2 linked regions of the Homo sapiens genome follow. The protein of the gene in region 2 purifies or fractionates together with the protein of the main gene of each other region. This does not show direct contact. Each region holds a gene or a part of one and is shown on either strand. Other genes may lie near its edges. The genes, in order: ACAA2 and TMIGD1.

Evidence for each region.
Region 1: the proteins of TMIGD1 (region 2) and ACAA2 purify together in Homo sapiens (co-immunoprecipitation; one study listed by IntAct). This does not show direct contact.

Annotation. Positions count from the first base shown.
Region 1 is NC_000018.10:49,803,335-49,807,161, reverse strand, and holds part of ACAA2 (3-ketoacyl-CoA thiolase, mitochondrial), read left to right. Parts: intron 1-3,827. UniProt on the Homo sapiens protein: In the production of energy from fats, this is one of the enzymes that catalyzes the last step of the mitochondrial beta-oxidation pathway, an aerobic process breaking down fatty acids into acetyl-CoA.
Region 2 is NC_000017.11:30,323,741-30,327,567, forward strand, and holds part of TMIGD1 (transmembrane and immunoglobulin domain-containing protein 1 isoform 1 precursor), read right to left. Parts: intron 1,355-3,827; coding exon 1,076-1,354; intron 1-1,075. UniProt on the Homo sapiens protein: May control cell-cell adhesion, cell migration and proliferation, cell morphology, and protects renal epithelial cells from oxidative cell injury to promote cell survival.

The sequences.
Region 1 (3,827 bases), on a different chromosome or scaffold from region 2:
CAGCCTCTTGAGTAGCTGAGATTATAGGCTTGAGCCACAGTGCCCAGCCCACTATCAAAGTTGACGCATTTTTGCCTGGATTCATTTTGTTTGGTATATAGATGTTTTGTTGTTCCAGCACTGTTTGTTGGAAAGACGATCCTTTTTCCAGTGAATTGCCTTTCCTCCTTTGTCAGACCTTGAGGTTCTGGCTTTGTTTTTTAATCTTTTTTTTTTCATCTGTTCTTCAGATTGGTTAATTTCTATTTATCTATCTTCAAAGTCGCTGAATTTTTCTCCTTTCATTTCTATTTTGCTGTTAAGCCCATCCAGGGAATTTTTTATTTCAGGTATTTTCCAGTTTTGGAATTTCCATTTTGGATTTTTATAGTATGTATTTCTTTACTGAGATGTCCTATGTTTTATTAGGAGCATATTTTCCTCTACATCCTTGAGCATAGTTGTAATAGAATGCTATTTTAAAATCCTTGTCTGCTAATTTCAGTGTCTGGGTCTTCTTGGGATTGGTCTCTGTTGATTGTCATATTTTTTGTTTCCTCATATGTGGATTAACTTTGAATTATATTATGAATATTGCAGATGGAACATTGTGGAGACTGGATTCTGTTATAATCCTGCAGACAGAACTGACTTATTGATTGGTTGGCTATTTATTTTTTGTAGACAGTTACTTTGCCTACAAAATCACCCCCATGCACCCCCGTGATAAACTATGTCTCCCCTTGTAGTGGGCAGCAGCTTAAATCTAAGTTCAGTTTTTTAAGGCTTGGCTTAGGTGCTTGTGGTCTGACCTACACATGAATGGCTAAGGAGTCAGCCAAATATTTGGGCAGAGTTTATATGTGAAATTTGGAATCTCGCTCTATGGTGCTCCTCTTTCCCAGATTCTCATTCACTTTCTAGTGGCTGTGCTTACCATGAATTTTATTCTCTGATTCTTCAAGCCAGTAAGACTGTTTCTGAGTTCTAGCCATTCCATGCATCATGGACTGTTAGTCTTCAAGTTAGTTGCTATAAATAAATTGGACACTTACCCTGTTCTGTTCCCTTCCTCTAAGTATCAACTCTTCTCCTTACCTGTCTAGTTTTGTTCATTTCCAAGACCGTCAGGTAGTAGTTGTTCTTATATATTGTCTGGAGTTTTTCATTGTTATCTGTTGGAGGGTTGGTCAGATAGGAGCATAGTAGGCCATGACCAGAAGCAGAACTAATGAAATTAGGAAGAAGGCATGGAAAGAGGAAAGAAGAATGAAATAAAGCAACCACTGATAGGCCAGGTGCAGTAGCTCATGCCTATAATCCTAGCAGTTTGGGAGGCCAAGGTGGGAGGATTGCTTGAGCCCAGGAGTTCGAGACCAGCCTGGGAAACATAGCAAGACCCCATCTCTACAAAAAAAAAAAAGAAAAAAAGGTAAAAATTAGCCAGGTGTGGTGGCACATGCCTGTAGTCCTACCTACTTGGGAGGCTGAGGCAGGGGGATCACTTGAGTTGGGAAAGTCGAGGCTGCAGAGGTCGAGGCTGCAGGGAGCTGTGATCACATCACTGCACTCTAGCCTGGGCACAGAGCAAGACTGTCTCAAAAAAAAAAGAAAACACTGATATAAAAATAGGCAGAGACTGTTAAGGAAGGAGGATGAAAGGAAACTTGAAAAGATTCAGGAAGGCATCATGGTACAGAATAACCAATTTACCAGAACAAAACGTTTGTAATGCACTCGACTAGTATTTATGGCCTTTTGTAACTATCTGAATTTGTATCTGTAAAAAACTGAGTGGATCTGTTCTAAATTATAGTTATATATATTGCTCCTAATATTCCTTTAAACTGCAAATTTCTCAAAATAGGAATGAAAAGAGAGGTTGAAATAGAAATATTTTAGGCTAGGCTTGGTTTGTTTGATGAAAGAGATCATAAACTGGAAGATTATACTTAGATACCAGTAGTGGTATAATGCTTGAATAGTCTCATTTGTAGATCAGTATCTTATCACAAACCCATTGCCGAAAGTCCCATAATTTCTTGACAAGATGTGGAAATGTGAGCTTAGATTGTCTTGGAGAGAATAAAGTTAGTATATGCAAAGTGCTAGCATGAAGTCTATTCCATAGTAAGTGTCCCCTCTATGTTAGCTATAATATTTACCTTGCAGAGTTGCTGGGAAGATTAGCTTTTGTGTGGAAAGTGATAAAATGTCTAGTATTTAGTAGACACCTAATGAATGTCAATATGATGAAATGGCTATAACTGATGCTGCTTACTGATATGCCGGTTTTGCACTGTACAGCTCTAATGATGATGAGTGGGTACCACTCACATCATAATCATATATTTGTATAGTCACAAGTTTTTTTTTGGCAGATGGTAGTAGGTGATTGGGAAGGGGTGATTTTTATTTATTTGTACAAGGACACCGATTTAACTAATAGTGATGCTGCAAATTTATAGTCTTAGTTTGTATTAGTAGATGTATAGATAATTCCTCTATTCTTTGTGATTAGATAAAATGCATGCTATTTTTGTTATATTCTTATATTCTAAGGGACACATTTTAATAGGATGTTGGCAAACTACAGTGTCTTTAGAGGAAAGCAGTCAGAATTAATGTCAAATAAAAAACTATTGAAAGAATGCCTTTAATTTACCTGAGATGAGAGTCACTAGGTTTGGGGACTTACAGGTTAGCTGACTTCAGATACTGGAGGTGGGGGATACACATGTAGAAGGTAACCTGTTTTGCCCATTTTTTTTCTAAGAGTAAAAGATAATAGTTCAGGTTATTTATTTGAAGTCTGTAACTTGAGTCATCCTGTGACTCTAGAACCGGTAGCAGCATATATTCTAGAAACTACATCTCTATCTGTGTTGGTGCTTTTGGAGAGAACTAGAATTGGTGGATGGAAGACTTTGTAAGCTGAGTTAGTTCAATATAAAGAAATATCATTCGTTGGGGCCGGGAGTGGGTGACTCACGCCTGTAATTCTAGCACTTTGGGAGGCTGAGGTGGGTGGATCCCCTGAGGTCAGGAGTTCAAGACCAGCCTGGCCAACATGGTGAAACCCCGTCTCTACTAAAAATACAAAAATTAGCCGGGCCTGGTGGTGGGTGTCTGTAGTCCCAGCTACTCGGGAGGCTGAGGCAGGAGAATCACTTGAACCCGGGAGGCGGAGGTTGCAGTGAGCCGAAATCGCGCCACTGCGCTCCAGCCTGGGCGACAAGAGCAAAACTCTGTCTCCAAAAAAAAAAAAAAAAAAGCAATATCATTAGTTTATGTTGTCCATGACCAGCACACTGTTTCATGCAGTAGAGTATGCCCTCTTACTGAAAGTTTCCTGGCAGAGGTTTAGAGAGAACCTTTTGTCAGGAATTTTTAGAGGTAGTTCTTATAGAGTGAGTGGTTGACCTCAGACAACCCTAAGGCACCTTCTAGTTTGGAGATTCTTTTATTCTAATACTAGGCAATATACTCCAGCACATAGAAGAAGGATTTTAGTTCTCAACATATGTTTCTAGCATTGTGAAGCATCAGAGAACAAGAAAGTTGTCTAACCAGAATGGCTTTACATCACAGTGTAGCAGGACGAGCCACAGTCAAAACTCCTCAGACACTGGATTAAAGAAGGAAGAGGCTTTATTTGGCTTGGAGCATCCACCAACTTGCGTCTTAAGAGCCGAGCTCCCTCAAAAAGAAATTCTTGGCCCTTTTAAGGGCTTACAACTCTAAGGGGTCCACCTGAAAGGATGGTGATAGATCAAGCAAGTGTGGGGAACGTGACTGGGGGCTACATGCATTAGCTTACAGAGCAGAAAGTTTTGCAATGCTTTTTC
Region 2 (3,827 bases):
GTGGTCTTGGGGGAGGTAAATAACCACAAAGCTTTTTCACTGCTTCTATCTCATGGGTATTCAGGATATTTGTGGGTTTGGTTTTTAAAACAAGTAGCCCCTGAGCAATTGTTAGTGCTCCGCAGGACGAATTACTGATCATTCCAGGAATCACAGTGATGGGCATTCAACCACCAGTAAGTCTTCTTCCCCACTAGCCACTCTTTTCATATCCCATAACTCTTCCCCTCAAGGGGAAGCAAATAAGATGTCCTATGGTTACATCACCACAACACTTCTGGCAGGGGTTCAGCTGGCTTCCTGGTGACTGACAAGACTGGCAATAAGTGAGTACAGGGAGGCAAATGACAAAGTGAGTAATGTTCTAACAAGATATGGGAGTCTCAGCTTGTTGGGCTGCTCCTGGTGTGCTAGCATGAGAGCAGACCATGTGTGAATGAGCATTTTTGGCATCTGCTACCCCAGGTATTTTGCCTTTCTCTTTTTGTATGAGCAAGAAATATGAGGAGGGAAAACCCCACAGAGCATCATTTGTTCTGTCATTGTAGAGGTGATAACCCTGGGTAGATGAAGCATGAATCCAAGAGAAAGGGCTTTTTTGTCCCCTTATTTTTTCCTACTCTCTCTGCTGATTACCCTACAGGTTAGAATTTGAGTTAGGAGTGATTGTAGGGATCCATTTTCTTATCTAGTCCTAATTTCTCTTCTCTGTGTGTTTTTTACTTCTGTTAGTTATGAAGCTGTGAACTCAAAAGTCCAGTTGCTACACACATTGTTGCCCAGGAGAATTCATGGAAATACTCTTCCCTAAAAGCCAAGCAGGATTGTTTCCTATATTTGGTTCTAAGAAAGGATTCTTGCTCAAAAAACAGTGTCCTGTATGGAATGGGCATGATTTCCCTGAAAGGATGGACTAGGATTCTTAGTGGAAAAATCCTTGGATGGGGATGATTCTCCAAAGAAAATCCTGGCCCTAATCATAACCGTTATTATCATTTATTGTCACCAGAAATATTCACTGAGCATCTGGTGTGAGTTTTGCACTGTGCTGGGTATTACTTAAAAAGAGCATTACCTTTAACAATCAGGTGAAAGTCCAAGCTCTCCGTTTTCAGAGATGACTTTGCAATACAACTGTAGGTTCCGTTGTCAGGCTTCTCGACTTTGGTGATTGACAGCTGAAAAGACTCACTTGTCTGTTGGATTTGGTGACGGCTTTTCTCTAAATCGAGGAGACTACTGTTTTTGTACCACATCATTTGAGCCTGGGGGTTGGCTTTCACATTGCAAACCAACTTCACATTACTGCCTTCCTCAACTGTTTGGAAGTCGTTTCCACTTAGGAGAGGAGGAACTGCAAGACTCAAGCATTTAGATTTAATTAGCAGATAAGCAATAGTTCACTGTCAGAGTTCAAAGTCTTCCTTCAATCTATCTCATGTGGTCATTTATTCATTTGACAAAAATTTATTAAATACGTACGGTGTGACAAGCACTGGGGTAACAAGGGCAAATAACACTTCCAGTTCCAAATCTCATAGAACTTTTAATGTGATGAAGAAGACAAACCATGAAACAATATATGATTATGAGCATGATATATATAGTAATGATCTATGACAAGCAGACAATTTGTAACACTACCCAAGAGTATAAGCCTTGAGTCTTTCTTCTCTGAGAATTAATAAACCAACCTGTGCTAGTGTTGCACAAAACAGTACAAAATTAAGAAGACATACATTGCAATTAGATCTAATTCCATCTACACCGTTTACTGTGACTTTGAGACAGTTAACTAACTGCTAAGGCCTCTGTTTCTCATGTAAAAAAAAAATGGGATAATCATACATCTCCTGAGATGCTGTAAAGATTAAATAAAATAATCCCTGTAAAGAATTTGCCACAGTGCTAGCCGCTATTATTATTACGGTGGTGGTGGTTTTGAGGGTTACTCTCACCGTCTGTTTTTGCATTTTATCGAACCATTGCCTTGGTAACATATTCACCAATGCATCTTTGCGTTTTCTCAGTGGTGCTCTAGAAATAATGTCCTCCTCCCAGAAGGTGTTCTAAGCATGAGAACTCTGGCATCTGTGGAAGGCAAGTGAGTCCCTCTCATCCCTGTGTGTGAGCAACTCCTTTTTTCCTCTACAATAAGGGCAGTTGTAGACCCATAGACAGTCAACACATCTATCACTGTGCATATTCTGGCAGAAGTGCAGAATAGTAATGAAATGGTTGGAGAGTGGGAACTAGGAAAAAGATAGAGACGGAGAAGGAGGAAAAAGGAGCTTGTATAATCTGCACACTGAATAATTAGACCCTGAGTAGGCTGTGTTATTAATAACTCTCTCAGAAGAATGACATTTTGTTGCTCTTTGGAATGAGCTCGAATTCTGTATCATATCCAACAAGGATGTTATATGGTATTCAGATAGGAAGGAAGCTGCTGGAATAGAGAACATAATTGCCAAATGGAACAATTCCATTTGTGGACAGATTCTGTTAGTGATTTCTTTCTATTTAACTATTTGAAATTAATTTAAGCATATCAGTATATGTGAATATCCCCTCTGTAAAAATTAGTACATTTTAGATAAAGCTAAGATCCAAGCTGGTCACTTCCTGATCCCCAGAGATACCCACTGTTATGAGTTTGGTGTAAATCCTTCCCTATCTTTCTTTTTTCTTAAATAGTTTTCTATACATATAGTGTACCCATAGGAAATATATCATATTATTTTAGGGACATGGGAAGGTTTTACATAAAATACTTCCTTTCTCTCAGTAACTTGCATGTTTTTGAGATATGTTTATATTGAACCACAGAGATCTAGCTTATTGCTTTTAGAATGCTATAGTATAATGTATGCCTTTAATCATTTGTGTTTTGATGGGCTTTAGGTTGTTTTCATTTTAAAATGTTAAACAATGCTACAATAAACATCCTTGTACATATCTCTTTATGATCCTGTACATGTATTTCTCCAACGTTAACATCTAGAAGGAGAAATGGTGTGTCGTAAGATATGCACACTTTAAATTTTGATAAGTATTTTGAAAGAGGTGTTCTCAATTTAAACTTTCAGCAACGAGGTATGAGAGGACCTGTTTCTCCACATTCTCCCCCAAACAGTGTATTATCAAGCTTCCATTTAGTTCTTGATTCTGCTATTTATAACAATAATGGTCCTGCCTTTGAAGGGTACATAATATCCTTGTCACATTTTATGAGCTCATTTTGATTTATTGGTTGATGACTTTGTGTCAGTACTGTCATTATGGATTACTGAGCAATTAACTATACACACACACACACACACACACACACACACACACTTAGCAACAATGATATTTAGGAGATTGTTATAAACAGAATTTAAACAGTGGATTGAGGCTAGAAAACTGAAAACAATTTCTTTAAGTCATCAAATCACATTGTTGGCATTTCTGCCATGTCTCCCTTAAGAGGGTTCCATCAGCCTGGGCAACATAGCAAAACCCCGTCTCTACAAAAAATACAAAAATCAGCTCGGCCTGGTGGTGCACGCCTGTAGTCCCAGCTACTTGGAAGGCTGAGGCAGGCAGATCACTTGAGCCTGGGAGGCAGAGGTTATAGTGAGCTGAGATTGTGCCACTGCACTCCAGTGTAGGTGACAGAGTGAGACCCTGTCTCAAAAAAAAAAAAAGTTTCGTGGAATAAGCACTTAAGCACTAGGTTAGAAGCTTGGGAATTAGTGTTTTATTCTCAGCTGCACCTATGATTTGAGCCCCTAGTCCGGGCCTTAGTTTCCTTAGCTGGCTTTTTATTTTATTTTATTTTATTT